Homo sapiens: one gene and its partners. The protein of the gene in region 4 purifies or fractionates together with the protein of the main gene of each other region. This does not show direct contact. Each region holds a gene or a part of one and is shown on either strand. Other genes may lie near its edges.

The links. Proteins that work in one complex are often made in the same cells at the same time.
Region 1: the proteins of POLDIP3 (region 4) and A2ML1 purify together in Homo sapiens (affinity purification with mass spectrometry; one large-scale study listed by BioGRID and IntAct). This does not show direct contact.
Region 2: the proteins of POLDIP3 (region 4) and UBR1 purify together in Homo sapiens (affinity purification with mass spectrometry; 2 studies listed by BioGRID and IntAct, with this or other methods). This does not show direct contact.
Region 3: the proteins of POLDIP3 (region 4) and KLHL22 purify together in Homo sapiens (affinity purification with mass spectrometry; one large-scale study listed by BioGRID and IntAct). This does not show direct contact.

Annotation. Positions count from the first base shown.
Region 1 is NC_000012.12:8,852,823-8,857,120, forward strand, and holds part of A2ML1 (alpha-2-macroglobulin-like protein 1 isoform 1 precursor), read left to right. Parts: intron 1-1,305; coding exon 1,306-1,427; intron 1,428-1,957; coding exon 1,958-2,009; intron 2,010-2,686; coding exon 2,687-2,770; intron 2,771-4,298. UniProt on the Homo sapiens protein: Is able to inhibit all four classes of proteinases by a unique 'trapping' mechanism. This protein has a peptide stretch, called the 'bait region' which contains specific cleavage sites for different proteinases.
Region 2 is NC_000015.10:43,022,539-43,026,836, reverse strand, and holds part of UBR1 (E3 ubiquitin-protein ligase UBR1), read left to right. Parts: intron 1-173; coding exon 174-276; intron 277-1,407; coding exon 1,408-1,456; intron 1,457-1,853; coding exon 1,854-2,008; intron 2,009-4,035; coding exon 4,036-4,135; intron 4,136-4,298. UniProt on the Homo sapiens protein: E3 ubiquitin-protein ligase which is a component of the N-end rule pathway. Recognizes and binds proteins bearing specific N-terminal residues that are destabilizing according to the N-end rule, leading to their ubiquitination and subsequent degradation.
Region 3 is NC_000022.11:20,485,796-20,490,093, reverse strand, and holds part of KLHL22 (kelch-like protein 22), read left to right. Parts: exon of another isoform or gene 1-263; coding exon of another isoform or gene 264-326; intron 327-849; coding exon of another isoform or gene 850-882; coding exon 883-1,109; intron 1,110-4,298. UniProt on the Homo sapiens protein: Substrate-specific adapter of a BCR (BTB-CUL3-RBX1) E3 ubiquitin ligase complex required for chromosome alignment and localization of PLK1 at kinetochores.
Region 4 is NC_000022.11:42,586,519-42,591,615, forward strand, and holds part of POLDIP3 (polymerase delta-interacting protein 3), read right to left. Parts: intron 1,055-5,097; coding exon 988-1,054; intron 1-987. UniProt on the Homo sapiens protein: Is involved in regulation of translation. Is preferentially associated with CBC-bound spliced mRNA-protein complexes during the pioneer round of mRNA translation. Contributes to enhanced translational efficiency of spliced over nonspliced mRNAs.

The DNA.
Region 1 (4,298 bases), on a different chromosome or scaffold from region 4:
GTAGCTAGGATTACAGTCGCGTGCCACCCTACCCGGCTAATTTTTGTACTTTTAGTAGAGGTGGGGTTTTGCCATGTTGGCCAGGCTGGTCTCAAACTCCTGACCTCAGGTGACCTGCCTGCCTCGGCCTCCCAAAGTGCTGGGATTACAGGCGTGAGCCGCTGCGCCTGGCCTTTTATTTTTTTTTAGAGAGACAAGATCTTACTCTGTCACCTAAGCTGGAGTACAGTGGTGTGGTCATTGCTCACTGCAGCCTCAACCTCCCAGGCTCAAGCGATCCTCTCACCTAGGCCTCCGGAGTAGCTGGGACTATAGGCTCATGCCACCACCATGCCTGGCTAATTCAGTTGGCAGAGAAGCGGTCTTGCTCTGTTGCCCAGGCTGTTCTCAAACTCCTGGGTTCAAGTGATTCTCCCGCCTCACCCTTCCAAAGTACTGGGATTACAAGAATGAGTCACTGCACCTTTAACTTGTTTAATCCTCACCCCCAACCCTATGGGATGTCAGTCACTCATAGATTAAATCCTTGCAACTCAAAGTTTGATTTTCATATGTATGAGTTATCTCATGTTGCTTGACAAATTATTGTAAAACTTAAGTGTCATAAAAGGACAAACATTATCAAACAGATTCTATGGGTCATTAATCTGGGTGCAGCTTAGCTGGGTACCTCTGGCTCAAGGTATCTCATGAGGTTGCAATCAAGCTGTCAGTCAGGACTCTGGTTTCATCTGAAGACTCGACTAGGAGAGGATTGATTTTTCAAGCTCATCCCAAAGTCTCTGATCCTTACAGGCTGCTAGACTGAAGGACACAGTTCTTGACCTCAGCTTTTGGCTAGGGGCCTCACTCAGTATCTCATCACATGAATCTCTCTGCTGGGCTGCCTCATCACACAACAGCTGTCTTCCCCAGAGCAAGCAGTTTGAGAAAAGGGGTGCACCCAAGATGGAAGCTGCAGTCTTTTTTGTAACCTAATCCCAGAAGAGTCATTACTTTCACCCTGTTCTCTTTAACAGAAGCGAGTCACTCAATCCAGCTCACACTCAATGGATGTAAATATCAGGATGCAGGGATCTCTGAGGGCCCTTAGAGGTTACCTACCACACTGGACTAGCCTCTCTGGCATCACCTGGGAGCTTGTTAGAAATGCAGAATATGGGCCCCACCCCAGGTCTATGGCAGCAGAGTTTGCACTGTTGCAAGATCCCCATTAAAGTTTCAGAAATGCTGATCCAAATGGGAATGGACCTCACTGGTACCTCTGGCAATAGGGCTAATGGCTTCCCTTCTTCTTTCTCTCAGGTCACATTAACTTTACTATTAGTACAAAGATTCTGGACAGCAATGAACCATGTGGGGGCCAGAAGGGGTTTGTTCCCCAAAAGGGCCGAAGTGACACGCTCATCAAGCCAGTTCTCGTCAAAGTGAGTTTTCTTCAGAGGTAGAGACAGCAACCAACCGAGGGATGCTCAGCATCTCGTCTTGCTGTGAGTTAGTCTCTCACAGCAACCATACTCCAGTCCAACCAGGCAGCTTCAACTTTCTCCTTCCCTGGCCCCTTGAACATTTGCCTAATCCACACCCACGGCCTATGAAAGCACCTAAAACCCGGCACCTCATAGGCACTCAACAAATGTTAGTTTACCTAATTAAAATGTCTGTCTTCATCAATAGCTGCCTTTTTCGTCCCATCATGAAGCCCATTGTCAATCTTGCCTCTTAGAAGTTGCCTAAATGTGTCTTTGGCTCTAGCACTTGCCCAGAAAGAACTTTACAGAAAGGGCCCATCCTTGGGTTGACGCAGAGTTCTTCTGAGCTTCAGTGAGAAGCTCTTGTCTGCAGTTCTGAGGGAAGCCCTGGGGGCACAGCGAGGGGCCTCCCTTCCCTTTCCTTTAGTGCCATCCCTCCTGATGTTCATCTTTGTTGTTTTTATCTGTGTCTCTCTTCATCGCAGCCTGAGGGAGTCCTGGTGGAGAAGACACACAGCTCATTGCTGTGCCCAAAAGGTGGGTGGACTCAGAGCAGGATTGGTGGTGAGAATTCCCTTAGAGGGCAGGAGATTTTCTTTTCATTTTTTTTTTTTTTTTGAGACGGAGTCTCGCTCCGTCGTCCAGGCTGGATTGCAGTGGCACGATTTCAGCTCATTGCAACCTCTGCCTCCCGGGTTCAAGTGATTCTACTGCCTTAGTCTCCTGAGTAGCTGGGACTACAGGTACATGCCACCATGCCTGGCTAATTTTTGTATTTTTAGTAGAGATGGGGTTTCACCATATTGGCCAGGCTGGTCTCGAACTCCTGACCTTGTGATCCTCCTGCCTTGGCCTCCCAAAGTGCTGGGATTACAGGCGTGAGCCACTGCACCCGGCAGCAGGAGATTTTCATAGGCAAAAGGAGGAATGCATAGTACCAGAAGGAATAGGAGAGTCTGAAGTGCCATTCCTCATGGGGCTGATTAACTGGGAGGCAGGAGGAAGAAGAGAAAGTGTGCAGCACGATGATGACTCTCTGTGGAATTTATTTTCAGCAAGATCACTATGAATAGTACCCAGTGCTTTCTGCATCCCAGAGAAAGCACCGAGTACAGAAATCCCTGGATTATAGAAAGTTCTTCTAAAATTTTGTCTTGAGAACCCCTGCCATTCCCCATCTTCTATTGTGTCACCTTTTTTTCTGCATCTCACAGGAAAGGTGGCATCTGAATCTGTCTCCCTGGAGCTCCCAGTGGACATTGTTCCTGACTCGACCAAGGCTTATGTTACGGTTCTGGGTAAGCAGTTAGAGATTCTTGACTCAGAAAGGAAAAGGCGAATGGAGGCTGCAAAGGTGTGGAGTGGGGCGGGACATACGGACCTATCCGGAGAGTGTAACTAATAACAAGTGATGAAGGAAAAAGAGCGTATTTTATATAGGAGGGAAATACAGTGTAGGCAACAGTACAGATGGGATTAGACTTGTACTCTAGTTAAAAATGGAAGAGAGTCAGGGTAGGAAGAAGGTAAGGTCGCTGATGCTTGATTTTAGGTTTAGACAGTCTATAAATTGGGTGAAGGGAAAACAGAATATTTGCAGCAACCATTTTCAAAACTGAGGAATTTGGGTATAGTTTAGGGAAGATACAACCATATTTACAATAGGCAGCACACTTACTGTTTGGGGCAAGGGAGGAAGTGGGTTGAAAAGCATGAACGTAGAAATCATATCTAACCTGTCATTTAATAGCCATGTGACCCTGAACAAGTTAGTGAACAGTTCTGGGCCTTCTTTCCTCTTCTGTAAAACAGTGATAATAACCTACCTCTCAGACTGGTGTAAAGATTAAATGCAATATAAAGTCCCCAGCACAATATCTAGCATGTAGTAGGAGCCCTATGAATGTTAGGCTCTTTCTTTACTCCCTCACCCTCTATTGAGATCCTTTGCAGTCACAGTGTCTCTGTTTTGTCTATTTTATTCGTAAGTCTGACATAGCACTTATCTTATTGTATTAGAGTTCACTGTCTATATCTGTCTTCCACACTGTGTTGGGGGCTCCTGAAGAGGAAGGGCCACATCTTTTTCTTTTGTGTTCCTAGTACAGTTCCTGCAACATAGTTGACATTCAGGACACATTTATAGATTGAATTGAGCTTGTTGGCTACAATGCAGATGTTAATGAGTCACTTATGTCAGGTTCACTGGCTTGGGAAGTATATGAAGGGGTCAGTGACAACTTGGAAAAGAGTGTCAGAACTGTGTTTTAGAGAAACTTGGTGATTTGGAGGGTGAGGAACGTACATGCAGTGGTAGAGGAGCTTAAGAGATTGATCCTAAGTGTTATAAGTTTTGTCACATCACTCATCAGCTCAGTGACATGTCTTCTTAAAAGCCCTGAACTCTCTTAGATAGCTTATGTGCCTCTCCGTGTCCCCTAGCACCTCGTACATATCCAGTATGACATTGTAGTACTGTATTAAAATTGTTTATAATGAATAAAAATTGTAATGTGTTGTAATGGTTTGCTCCTCTGTGAGTTTTTTTGAGGGTAGAGACCGAGTTTGATTTACTGTGGTCTTCCCAGGACACACAGTAGGTACTTTTTTTTTTTTTTTTTTTGTATTTTTAGTAGAGACAGGGTTTGTCCATGTTGGTCAGGCTGGTCTCGAACTCCTGACCTCAGGTGATCCACCCTCCTCGGCCTCCCATACTGCTGGAATTACAGGCGTGAGCCACCACGCCCGGCCCATAGTAGGTACTTATTAAATGATAGCTAATACGTGTTTGTTCAGTGAATGATGATAACTCTTAGAGGGTCCCTT
Region 2 (4,298 bases), on a different chromosome or scaffold from region 4:
GTTCACAATGTAGGTTTTTAGTTTTATTATTGCAATGGAATTTTTCATAAGCTAAATGAGACATAATTTTTTTCTGTATATTTGACTTCTAGATTAATTTTTAGGTTTTTATTTTGTCTATATTTTATACTTCAAGAACACTGCAGTTCATCTTGTATTTTCCATCTATTTAGGAAACCAGGTGTATCAGGCCATGGAGTTTATGAACTAAAAGATGAATCACTGAAAGACTTCAATATGTACTTTTATCATTACTCCAAAACCCAGCATAGCAAGGTAGAAAAAAGTATCCTTTTCAGTAAATAAACCTAAATGCTTTATGCTTTCTAACTCCACAGAAAATTTTCTGCTTTTTCTATAGTTTCACGCTGGTTCTTATTAATAGAGGTCATTATGTCACCCAAGAATTAAAATTGAATCAATAATCTTATCTAGTATACAGGCAATATTCAGATTTTCCTGATTATACTACATATGTCTTTAATAGCTGTTTTGGGAAGAGGATTCAATCAAGCATCATGGACTTCATCATCACACACTCATTTGATTGTCATGTTTCTTTAGTTTTTGTTTTGTTTTGTTTTTTGTTTTTGTTTTTGTTTTGTGAAATGGAGCCTCACTCTGTTGTCCAGGCTGGAACGTAGTTGCACGATATCAGCTCACTGCAACCTCCACCTCCCAGGTTCAAGTGATTCTCCTGCCCCAGCATCCTGAGTAGCTGGGACTATAGGCACATGCCACCATGCCTGGCTAATTTTTGTATTTTTAGTAAAGACCGGGTTTCACCATGTTGTCCAGGCTGGTCTCAAATTCCTGACCTCAAATGATTCCACCCACCTCGGCCTCCCAACGTCCTGGGATTACAGGCGTGAGCCACCTCGCCCGGCCAATAGTTTCCTTTAATTTAGAAGATAATTCTTTTGCATTTTTTTCTTTTGTAACATCGGCATTTCTATAGAGTACCAAATAGATTCAGCTTAAACAGTTTTTGGCAAGAATACTATGTAAATGATATATTGCATCCCATTATTAGGCACATACGTCTTTTTGTCCCATGAAGGATCATGTTAAGTTTGATCAGTTAGTTAAGGTGATGTCTGGCTTTGTCCTTATCAAGTAAATACTTTACAGCCCATAGCATAGTACCCTGTGCATAATAGGTACTGGGTAAATATTTTCAGTAGAAAATAATGGAGACTAAGTTTTTGATCAGGGATATTCCTCATCTATTTTGCATTAGGTTTCTCTAGAACACAATTTTATTTCTAGGACAAAGAGGCATTTTGAATACATGCTTCAGTATATAAAGTATTTTAATAGGTGGTTGGGTCTTTCCTGACTGCTTTAATGTATTTCATTTGTTTCATGCTTCCAAAGCAGTATATTTAATGATAGATTTTTTTATAGGCTGAACATATGCAGAAGAAAAGGAGAAAACAAGAAAACAAAGATGAAGGTAAAAAGTGAGATTCTGAATTGACTCATTTTGACTATTTTCTGTGGTTTCACATCAGCAAAGCATATAGTTTTTTGTTGTTGTTGGTTTTTGAGAGTGGGCAACTCAAGGAAGTGCAAAGAGCTTTTTGCTTCTTATTCACATATTAAGATATGGTATATATCAGTAGTGATTGAATTTAAAATTGATAACAAATGTAGTTCATTTTGGGTGACTGATATAGTACTTACATTACACTTAACATTGATATTTTCAGTACTGGAAAGGTAGCAAAAAAGCATGTGTTGTTTTGCATGTAACCTATTATTTTTTGACATTTGCACTTTAGTATGTAGGATAACCCAAATAAAAATGTACCTGTTTGTCTCTTTCCCCATCCATTCCCCACCTCCTATAGCATTGCCGCCACCACCACCTCCTGAATTCTGCCCTGCTTTCAGCAAAGTGATTAACCTTCTCAACTGTGATATCATGATGTACATTCTCAGGACCGTATTTGAGCGGGCAATAGACACAGATTCTAACTTGTGGACCGAAGGGATGCTCCAAATGGTTTGTTTACCTGAAATATTTTCTCTACATCAAGTCCTAGAGTTCTTGGGGAGCTAGGGAAGATCTCAGGTCTAACTTCAGTTGGAACCACATCTAGAGCACCGGAAACATAGGGGTCATTAAAAATAGCTTACACACAGCACAAATTTTTTTTAGTGATCTCGTGTTTTTAGCATCCTTACTCTTGGGAACCATTTCTGTTTAATAAAACCCATGAAAACAAAAACAGGTGTACTTATGCTAATAAATTGACATGTTGTTATTGTGTCATGATTTTTTATATTTTTAATTTTACTTGAATTATAAGGAGACAGTATAATAAAATTTGAAGATAGGTCTAGACGTCAGTCTTGGGTTTCCCCACTTCCTATTTAAGGAGCAAATAATAATTTTCTCATTAGTAAAATGGATAAAAGTGTAATTATTCATAGAGGTAGGAGAATTAGCTAAAGTGAAAGCAGCTACTTTTCCTTGTTACTGTTGTAGATAAATACACGTTACTTAATTATGCCACGTCATGGTAGTTGTAACACCATATTTATTTATACCTGCCTAACTAAATGTTCCTTTTTCCTTGAGTATTGTTGGTCTACAGGTTCTAAATGCTGTCATTGCCATATGTGTGCCTCAATTTTTATTATAACACTGATAAATACATTCACTAGTAAATTTCAAACCATAGAGATATGTTTGAAACCAAGTTAAAATTTCTCTCCCTGAGTCCCAGTATGCTATATAGGACATAAGCATTGTTAAAGTTTTGTATATTCTGGAAATCATTGCACATTAGTGCATATAGATCTACTTATTCTTGATAGCTGCGTAGTCCATTGTATGGATATAATGTGTTTCAGTAGTCTCCTATTAATAGACATTCAGGTGTTTCTAGGTCTTTGCTGTAACAAAGAACAATAAAATGTACGTTCTTATACAAATGTTTTTGCATACCTAAGGGAGCGTATTTGTCATACTAATTCCTAATAGTTGGTATATACCTTTACATTTTTGATAGATGTTTTCAAATTGGCCTCCAAAAATGTTATACCAGTTTACTTTACCATCACCACTATGGTCAAAAGTGCCTACTTCCCAATACCTATGCCAGCTCTATATTTTACTAAACACCAAAATTTTTGCCACTGTAATAGGTGAAAAATAGGATGATCTTGTTTCAACTCATTTTTCTTTAAGTGAGGTTGAACTTTTTTTTTTTTTTTTTTTTTTTTTTTTGAGATGGAGTTTCACTTGTCACCCAGGCTGGAGTAGGCTGGAGTGCAGTGACACAATCTTGGCTCACTGCAACTTCCGCCTCTGGGTTCAAGCGATTCTCCTGCCTCAGCCTCCCAAGCAGCTGGGATTACAGATGCCCACCACCACACCTGGCTAATTTTGTATTTTTAGTAGAGACAAGGTTTCACCATGTTGACCAGGCTGGTCATGAACTCCTGACCTCAGGTGATCCACCCACCCAAACCTCCGAAAGTGCTGGGATTACAGAAGTGAGCCACCAGCTCCGGGCCAGGTTGAACATTTTTCATATGTGTATTCATCATTTCTCTTTCTGTAAACTGCTTAATGTGAACTGCTGAAACCTTTCCGTGTTTTTTACCTATCAGCTTTCTTATTTTTATACTTCTACTTAAAATAGATTTACCTTGCTAGGCATGGTGGCCCATACCTGTAATTGCAGCACTTTGGGAAGCTGAAGCAGGAGGATCACTTGAGCGCAGGAGTTTAAGACCAGCCTGGCCAACATAGTGAGATGCTGTCTATACCCCCCGCCCCCTCCAAAAAAAATTTAGCTGGGCGTGGTCGTGTGCACCTCTAGTCCCCAGCTACTCAGGAGGCTGAGGCAGGAGGATCACTTGAGCCCAAGAGCTTAAGGCTGCAGTAAGCTAGGATTGCCCCACTGCACTCCAACCTGGGTGACAGAGTGAGACCAGTCTCTGAAAAAAATTAAAATTAAATTAAAAATATATTTACCTGAAGAAGCGCAATTTTAAAGATCTCTTATTTTCCTCCTTCAGGCTTTTCATATTCTGGCATTGGGTTTACTAGAAGAGAAGCAACAGCTTCAAAAAGCTCCTGAAGAAGAAGTAACATTTGACTTTTATCATAAGGCTTCAAGTATGTTTGAGTATCACTCTTCAACACATTTGTCATTGAAAGTCTAGATCTTAAGGAGTTTTAATTTGTCAATCCTGAAAGTTTATATCTTACAGAGTTTTAATCTGTCAGTCCTTAAAACATAGGTAACCCTGAAATAATTTTTTTCCTAGCATTCTTAGTT
Region 3 (4,298 bases), about 22 Mb from region 4:
CTCCCTGACCTGAACAGCTGGCTATCCACAGTCACTTTTGGTTGCTCCATGGCAAAAGTGCATTTGCAGTAGGTTCATTTTACTGATTAGGTTTTAGAGGCTCCAATTCAAATCAGTTTGCGGTTTTTGAACGTACTGACTCAATTATTAGAAGATAATCTTTAATTTAAAAGGCAATGCAGATGAATTTAAATGCATCAGGTTCAATCACAGTTACTGTGCTTGACTCTCAGAATTTCAGTAAAGGAAAGTAGGCCCTGGAAATGCCACCCCCTTGGCACCCACCTCCCAGACTCCTGGCTGTGTGTCTCCTGACCACTACTCAGGTCTTGCCATTTTTATGCATCCATTACTATGAGGAAGAACCCAATTTTGTTCATTCAATGGGAGGGAGGAAGAGCTCTTGAGAACCTGGTGTGTGCTTATGCTTCATGTTCATTGTTTTACCAATTTTAGAATACCCCAATGGGGTAGGTACTTTTATCTCTCTTTTTAAAATTGGGGAGCTCGAGGCTCAGTTTGGTCATGTTGTAAGTCCCTGTGGAGTTGGGCTCCAACCCAGGTCAGTCTGTTTCCCAAAACCCTTCTGTTTGACTTTGCCGCTGAAGAAGATACAATGAGATGAAGAGTCTTGGGCATGATGGCACACAGGTCATCAGGAAGAAGGCCATCAGGAAGTTGGACTAGAGGTGGGAGGGGAGAAGGAATTAGGGGATTTGGAAATAGAGGGAAAACAGGTGAGCCTGAGGGAGGCACAGGAGCAAGGGGAGCAACAGAGCTGGCCAGTCTGTGTGTGGTGGGGCTGATGCCTGCCTGCTCACCCCTGTCCCCTGTTTTGCCAACTGTCAGGCCACAGTTGTAAGGGATCTTGTGGCTGTCAGGATGGCAGAGGAGCAGGAGTTCACCCAGCTCTGCAAGTTGCCTGCACAGCCCTCACACCCACACTGCGTGAACAACACCTACCGCAGCGCACAGCACTCCCAGGCTCTGCTCCGAGGGCTGCTGGCTCTCCGGGACAGCGGAATCCTCTTCGATGTTGTGCTGGTGGTGGAGGGCAGACACATCGAGGCCCATCGCATCCTGCTGGCTGCGTCCTGCGATTACTTCAGGTGAGTTCACTAGAGCTGTTTGTAAGAAGAATAACAAAGGTAATCCTGGCTCTGCTAGTAAAGGTACTGGCGGTGACAGTGGCTGGTCTCCTGCTCACCTCAGAGCCTCCCCTACTCCTTGTGGCTATGACTTAGTCAACAAGTGTGAGAGACAGAAGGGGGTCTTAGAGTTCATTTTTCATTCAGTGATCCTGTTTCTTGGGCTTTGCCTCCTCTTCTCTTCCCTCTCTTCTCTTCCTTTTCTTTTCCTTTTCTCTCTCTTTTCTTTTCTCTTTTCTTTCCTCCTTTCTCTCCTCCCCTCCCTTACCATTCCTCCCCTCCGTCAGTAATTATTGCTGTGTATGCATCACCTTCTGGCTCACACCTCTCATCCCTCAGGTGTTAGCCTCTGGCCCTCCCAGTGAGCTCTGTGGCCCCTCTGGGGTTTCTTATGGCCTCCTTCGTGACCCCATCCCAGCACTTGGCACAGTGTGAGGAACCACTGGCTTATCTGTCTTTTCCACTGGGTTGGAATCTGTCTCTTATCCCTAGCACCTGACATGGTTTTCACATATTCAAACAATACCCATGGCTTAAATGAATAAATTTATGTACACAGATAGCAGATCAATACACCATTTGCCCTGTTGTCTGCACTGCTCTGCACTCAAGGAGGTGGGTGTCACCACCCTTATTTCACATAGGTGGCATGAGCCTGAGAAGGACTGAGGGCCACTCGTGGTCCCCAGCAAGGTTGTCATGGGACTCCAAGCCTGAGGTGTTCCATTCTAGCTCTGATTCTGTTCAATCATTTTGTCTTCAAGGCTTAGTTGTAGTTCTCTCTCTCTCTCTTTCTCTTTATCTCTCTCTATTTTTTTAATTAGGAACTATCAAGCAAAATATGTATGGTTTAAGTGCCTTCTGTCTCCAAAAGGAGTTTTGGAGAATGTGACCCAGTGGTGGCTTGGTGCAGATGTGTCCAGGAGCAGCAGAATTCTTTCAGTTCACCAGGGAAATTCAGCTGAGGCCTTTAATAAGCATTAAGATAACATACAGGACAGTGGGTAGGGTAGAGGAGCTGAGGGCCCCCTGCAGGGGACTTAGGACCTGTATAGGAGAGGATGGCCAGAGGCTGTGGAGCCTATGGGATCCCCTGGGCTCACCCTCTCAGCCCTTCTTGATTTAGTGTCATACCACTCTTTCTGAAGATGACAGTGTAGGCAGCCTTTCGCTAATCTGTCAAAAACCTTATGTGGCTTTCCACGTCCTCCAGGAGCAATTTCTAGCCCTTTCCACAGCCCCCCTTGGGTAAACCTCTTATGAGAGGTGTCCTGCTCTCCGGGATGATTACAATGCATCACTAACACCCCCTGCATCCCTCCACTTCCATTGGGAAGGGGAGCGGGAGAGTGGCAACATTATTGGAAGAGCCCAGAGTCATTTCACAGGGGGGTGTGTGTGTGTATGTATAAATAAGAAATAGAGGCCAGTCACGGTGGCTCACACCTGTAATCCCAGCACTTTGGGAGGCCAAGGCAGGTGGATCACTTGAGGCCAGGAGTTTGAGACTAGCCTGGCCAACATGGTGAAACCCTGTCTCTACTAAAAAAAAAAAAAAAAATTAGCTGGGTGTAGTGGTGGGCGCCTGTAATCCCAGCTACTTGGGAGGCTGAGGCAGGAGAGTTGCTTGAACACAGGATGCGGAGGTTGCAGTGAGCCGAGATTGTGCCACTGCATTCCAGCCTGGGTGACAGAGCAAGACCCTGTTTCAAAAAAACAAAAAAGAGGCTGGATGTAGTGGCTCACGCCTGTAATCCTAGAACTTTGGGAGGCCGAGGCGGGTGGATCACCTGAGATTAGTAGTTCGAGACCAGCCTGGCCAACATAGTGAAACTCCGTCTCTGCTAAAAATACAAAAACTAGCGGGGCGTGGTGGCACATGCCTGTAATCCCAGTTACTTGGGAGGCTGAGGCAGGAGAATCACTTGAACCCAGGAGGCGGAGGTTGCAGTGAGCCTAGAAAGAGGCCAGGCTTGGTGGCTCACTCCTATAATTCCAGCACTTCGGGAGGCCAAGGAGGGCGGATAACTTGAGGTCAGGAGTTGGAGACCAGCCTGACCCACATGGCAATACCCTGTCTCTACTAAAAATACAAAATTAGCTGGGCGTGGTAGCACATGCCTGTAATCCCAGCTACTCAGGAGGCTGAAGCAGGAGAATTGCTTGAACCCGGGAGGCGGAGGTTGCAGTGAGCCGAGATTGCGCCACTGCATTCCAGCCTGGGCAACAAGAATGAAACTCCGTCTCAAAAAAAAAAAAAAAGAAAAGAAATAGACCATTCCCAAGTGTTAGCATGTTTATTATTTGTTTTAGTTACTTGTGAAATGTTAAAATGATAAAGGACTATTTTTTTCCCAGTATGACTGGTAAATATGTGTGAGAGGCTTGTAATATTTGATATGGGCAAGGGTAGAGAGAAGGGCATTTAGGGGTGGGCTGGCCCATAGTTTAGGGCCCTGCAGTTGTATGTTGGGTGTCTAGGTGTCATTCCTGTGGGACGATGCACCCAGTGCTGAGACATGGTGCAGGACAGAGCCTTTCTGTGTTATCCAATGGAGCTACTTGCAAACTGGGCAGTGTGGTGTGTCTACTGATAGGGAGTGAAAAACCTCAGGACCTGGTGGAAGATGATCCCAACCATGAAGATCTGGAAGGATCTTGCTGCACCGTGGGGACTCAGCAAAGGGCAAAGGGAGAGGGAGGCTGAATTTCTTCTGTTTACTGCATTGTCTGAATTATTTTACAAAGAACATAAATTTCTTTTTTTTTTTTTTTTTTTGAGACGGAATCTCACTCTGTCACCCAGGCTGGAGTGCAGTGGTGTGATCTCGGCTCACTGCAACCTCTGCCTCCGGGTTCAAGCAATTCTCCTGCCTCAGCCTCTCGAGTAGCTGGGACTACAGGTGTGCGCCACCACGCCCGGCTAATTTTTTGTATTTTTAGTAGAGACAGGGTTTCACCATGTTGGCCAGGCTGATCTCGAACTCCTGACCTTGTGATTTGCCCTCCTTGGCCTCCCAAAGTGCTGGGATGACAGGTGTGAGCCACACCACGCCCAGCCTTTTGTTTGTTTGTTTTGAGATGGAGTCTCGCCCTGTCCCCCAGGCTGAAGTGCAGTGGGGCAATCTCGGCTCACTGCAACCTCTGCCT
Region 4 (5,097 bases):
CTGCATGTTCCTTCTGGATGGTAACATCCATTAGCATATTACACAATCTGAGAAGCCCGAAAGTGAAACAGATGTAACTCTGTTTAGCCCAGTAGTTCCCAAACTTATTAGGTTACAAAACCCTAAGAAATATTTCTTATTCCTTGAACACAGTTTAAGAACTTATCCAAATCACATAATTCATTACCCAGGGTTCAAATCCTAGTCTTTTTAAATCTCAAAGTCTATTTCAGCCCTGCCCCACACTATCCCACTCACCCTGGCAAGTCTAACCTCCTCCCTGGTATCTGCTTCCTTATCTAGAAGGTGAAGTCCTCACAGTCTCAACATTTTATGCATCTCAGGCTTCAAAACATCCCTCAGTCCTGGGCCAGGCATGTATACTCAGCTGTGTGCAACAAAAGCCTTCAATGGCTTCCCACTGTACTTAAAAGCCAAATCCAGCTGGGCGTGATGGTGTGCGCCTATAGTCCCAGGTCCTCAGGAGGCTGAGGGGAGAGGGTTGCTTGACCCCAGGAGTTTGAAACCAACCTGGGCAACACAGTGAGACTCTCAAAATAACTGAAAAAGCAAAAAACAAACAAACAAACAAACAAACAAAAAACCTCACTGGGGAACAAAATAAGGGGTAGCATCTGGCACTGTCTCCATCAGAGCCAATCATGCAGTGGAGTTCTCTGTTCCCGGGATGATGCACACAGCTAGGAGACCCAAGCAGCCTCCCCCTCCAACTTCCACTCAGATATTTCTAAATCAGAAAGCTGAGAACGAGATCATAATGCTAGTCCCTATAGGGTCAAGCCCTGGGGAAATAACAAAGCAAACCATTTTGGTCAAGTTTAAGCATATGAAACGGCCAGCTGCCATTAGAACAGAGGAAACGGAATGGGGGGATGAAGGGGAGCTGTGATGCAGGCAGTTTACCCATTAGAACAAAAAGAGATGGACGGAGCTGCCTCTCCCCAGCACCCCGCCTTTGGAACTCACAGCAGGATGGGCTGGTCTGAGGTGATAACATTCCCATTCATGTGAAGGTTGCACTTCATCGGCTGCCCTGAAAAACCAAAGAAAGAAAAAGGCTCTGCTATGAGACCTCGGCTCCTCACACAAGAGGACAAGGGCTGTACCTCCATTATCAATGGTCAAAGCACCCACCACTGGCAGTTCTGGCTCCACAGATGGAGATGGGGCTGCTAGGTTCCAGTCAAGCCAGACACTAAGAAAATCCCAGGGCGTGAGGAAACCTCAGCAGTGGAGCACCAAGAGGCAAAGTGGCCACAAACCTTGCTTCATACAGGAAGAGATGAGTGGGAAGTGAGGGAGAAACGAGACTCAATGTGAAGCCATCCAAGTAGTAAGGGAAAAGGTTTATGCTATCAAATTCAGTGAAAAGATGATCAAAAGCATTATGTACAGGCTTCTACTCTGTCTACAAAGGATGAAGCACTAGGAAGACCACACTCCCACTGTATACAAAGCATAACATGTGTAACGGTAATAGCACAAAAAAGAGGAAGAAGGAACAGGGCCATGTGGGAGTAACATTTCCATATCTTACTCGAGTTAAGTTAGTGAATACATCATTAAAGGAATTAAAATATTGGGGAAAAAATGTGAAAGAAAAGCCACTGAAGAGGAACAAAAAAGTAAAATGGGGCCGGGCGCGGTGGCTCACGCCTGTAATCCCAGCACTTTGAGAGGCTGAGGCGGGTGGATCACGAAGTCAGGAGATCGAGACCATCCTGGCTAACATGGTGAAACCCCGTCCCTGCTAAAAATACAAAAAATTAGCTGGGTGTGGTGGCGGGCGCCTGTAGTCCCAGCTACTCAGGAGGCTGAAGCAGGAGAATGGCGTGAACCTGGGAGGTAGAGCTTGCAGTGAGCAGAGACCACATGCCACTGCACTCCAGCCTGGGCAACAGAGCGAGACTCCACCTCAAAAAAAAAAAAAAAAAAGTAAAATGGAAGAAATAAACCTAATTATCAATATTAAATATGAATGGATTAAATAATCCAATCCAAAGACAGATTGTCAGATTGAATTCAAATAAAAAAAAAACCAGTAAGATCTAACTATACACTCTCTATAGGTGACACATTTTTCTTTCTTTCTTTTTTTTTTTTTTTGAGATGGAGTTTCGCTCTTATTGCCCAGGCTGGAGGGCAATGGTGCGATCTCGGCTCACGGCAACCTCCGCCTCCTGGGTTCAAGCGATTATCCTGCCTCAGCCTCCGGAGTAACTGGGATTACAGGCATGTACCACCACACCTGGCTAATTTTGTATTTTTAGTAGAGATGGGGTTTCCTCATATTGGTCAAGCTGGTCTCGAACTCCCAATCAGGTGATCCGCCTGGCGGATTACAGGAGTGAGCCATTGTGCCCAGCCTAGGAAACACATTTTTACAGTTGATGAGAGAAAAAGATTGAAAGTAAGAGTGGGCCAGGCTTGGTGGCTCATGCCTGTAATCCCAGCACTTTGCAAGGCTGAGATGGGCAGATCACTTGAAGCCAGGAGTTTGACAGCAGCCTGGCCAACATGGCAGAAACCCCATTTCTACTAAAAATACTAAAAATTAGCTGAGTGTGGTGGTGCACACCTGTAGTCTCAGCCACTCAGGAGGCTGAGGCACAAAAATCGCTTGAACCTGGGAGGAAGACGTTGCAGTGAGCCAAGATCATGCCACTGCATTCCAGCCTGGGCGACAGAGCGAGACTCCGTCTCAAAAAAAAAAAAAAAAAGTGAACAAAGATATATCACTCAAATAGCAACCCTAAGAAAGCTGGTCTTTTACTTATTAGCTTATTAGCTATTAGTAATATAAAATGAAATATACTTTAAAACAACAAAAAAAGTGACTAGAGGTAAAGAGAGATTTAAATTTGACTGAAGGGTCAATTCATCAGGAAGAAAACAATCAAACATATATGCAAGTAACAACAGAACCTCAAATATATAAAATAAAAATACACAGAAGTGAAAGGAACAGACCAACAGTAATAAAGATCTCGCCGGGTGCAGTGGCTCACACCTCTAATCCCAGCACTTTGGGAAGCCCAGGTGGACGGATCACTTGAGGTCAGGACTTCAAAACCAGCCTGGCCAACATGAGGTCAGGAAATCAAGACCATCCTGGCTGACACAGTGAAACCCCATCTCTACGAAAAATACAAATATTAGCTGGGCGTGACAGTGGGCACCTGTAATCCCAGCTACTTGGGAGGCTGAGGCAGGAGAATTGCTTGAACCCGGGAGGCAGAGGTTGCAGTGAGCTGAGATCATGCCACTGCACTCCAGCCTGGGTGACAGAGGGAGACTCCGTATCAAAAAAAAAAAACAGAACCTCAGTATTTCACTTTCAATACTAGATAGAACCAAGCAGATCAACAATGAAACGCACTTAAACATTACAAAGCAACAAGACATAATAGACATGTACAGAACATTCCACCTAACAACAAGAAAATACATATTTTCCTTAAACACTCATAGAAGAAAAGAAAATCTGGAAAATTCATGAATATATGGAAATTGAAACAATCCTAAATAACCAATGGGTCAAAGGAGAAATCACAAGGGAGATTAGAAAATAATTCAAGATGAATGAAAATGAAGGCATGATATACCAAAACACGGAATGCAGTTACAGCCATGCTTAGAATATATAGCTGTAAATGCACATACAGTCATGTATCATTTAACCATGGGAATACATTCCAGAGTGCAGTGGCACGATCACAGCTCACTACAGCCTCAACTTCCCAGGCTCAAGTGATCCTCCCACCTCAGCCTCCCCAGCATCTGGGACTACAGGCACACGCCACCACGCGCCCAGCTAATTTATTTTTTGAGACAGGGTCTTGCCACGTTGCACAGGTTGGTCTCAAGTTTCTAGGCTCAAGCGATCCTCCTGCCTCAGCCTCCCAAAGTGCTGGAATTACAGGCTTCAGCCACCACACCCGGCTGTACAGCATGTTACTCTACTGAGTAGAGTAGGCAACTGTATTTGTACATCTAAACGTAGAAAAAATACAGTAAAAATATGGTATTATAATGTTATGGGCCCACTGTCATATATGTGGTCTGCTGTTAACCAAAAAGTCCTTATACTGCATATGAATACATTAAAAAGCAGAAATAAACCTACAGAATGGGAGAAAATATTGGTAAATCACTTATCTGATAAGGGACTTAAGAATATGTAAAGTACTTCTACAACTCAGTATTTAAAAAGCAGACAAAGATTCTGTACAGGCATTTCTCCAAAGATAGCTGGGCACAGTGGCTCATGCCTATAATCCTAGCACTTTTGAGAGGCCGAGGTGGGCAGATCACCTGAGGTCAGGAGTTTGAGACCAGCCCGGCCAACATGGTGAAACCCTATCTCTACTAAAAATACAAAAAAATTAGCTGGGCTTGGTGGCGTGCACCTGTAGTCCCAGCTACTTGGGAGGCTGAGGCAGGAAAGCCGCTTGAACCGGGGAGGCGGAGGTTGCAGTGAGCTGAGATCACGCCACTGCACCCCAGCCTGGGCAACAGAGAGAAACTCAAAAAAAATAAAAAAATAAAAAAATAATAAAAAATAAAAATAAAAAAAAGAAAGAAAAAGGAAAATAAGTATCTTTCCACATCCAAACATATGACAAAAAATAAGAAAAAACAAAAAAAGAACAGAAATTCAAAACAAAATTAATTTCTTTAATGACATACAAATGGCCAATAAGCACATGAAAAGGTGCTCAACATCATTAGCCATGGGGAAATGCAAATCAGAACTCCACTGACTCACCCAGGGGAGTTCACCCAGGTGCCAAGATTTAGCCAAGGCTCCAGGTCTTTTATTTGTAATTTTTTTTATTGTTGTATTGTTTTATTAGTCTCTGCTTCTCCACTTCTAGCACAGGGCCTTGGTCCACAGTAGGCACTCAATACATACTGAAAGAACAAATGAGTGGAAAAGGAGCATGGCAGACAGAATTCTTCTCTACAGGCTGTCTGGAGATGAAAAATATGAACCTCAAGTCAATAAAGTCTGTTGTTTACCCACCAGGAGCAGCTCTCACCCAGGTGTCAACATTCAGACAAAACTCCAGGGCT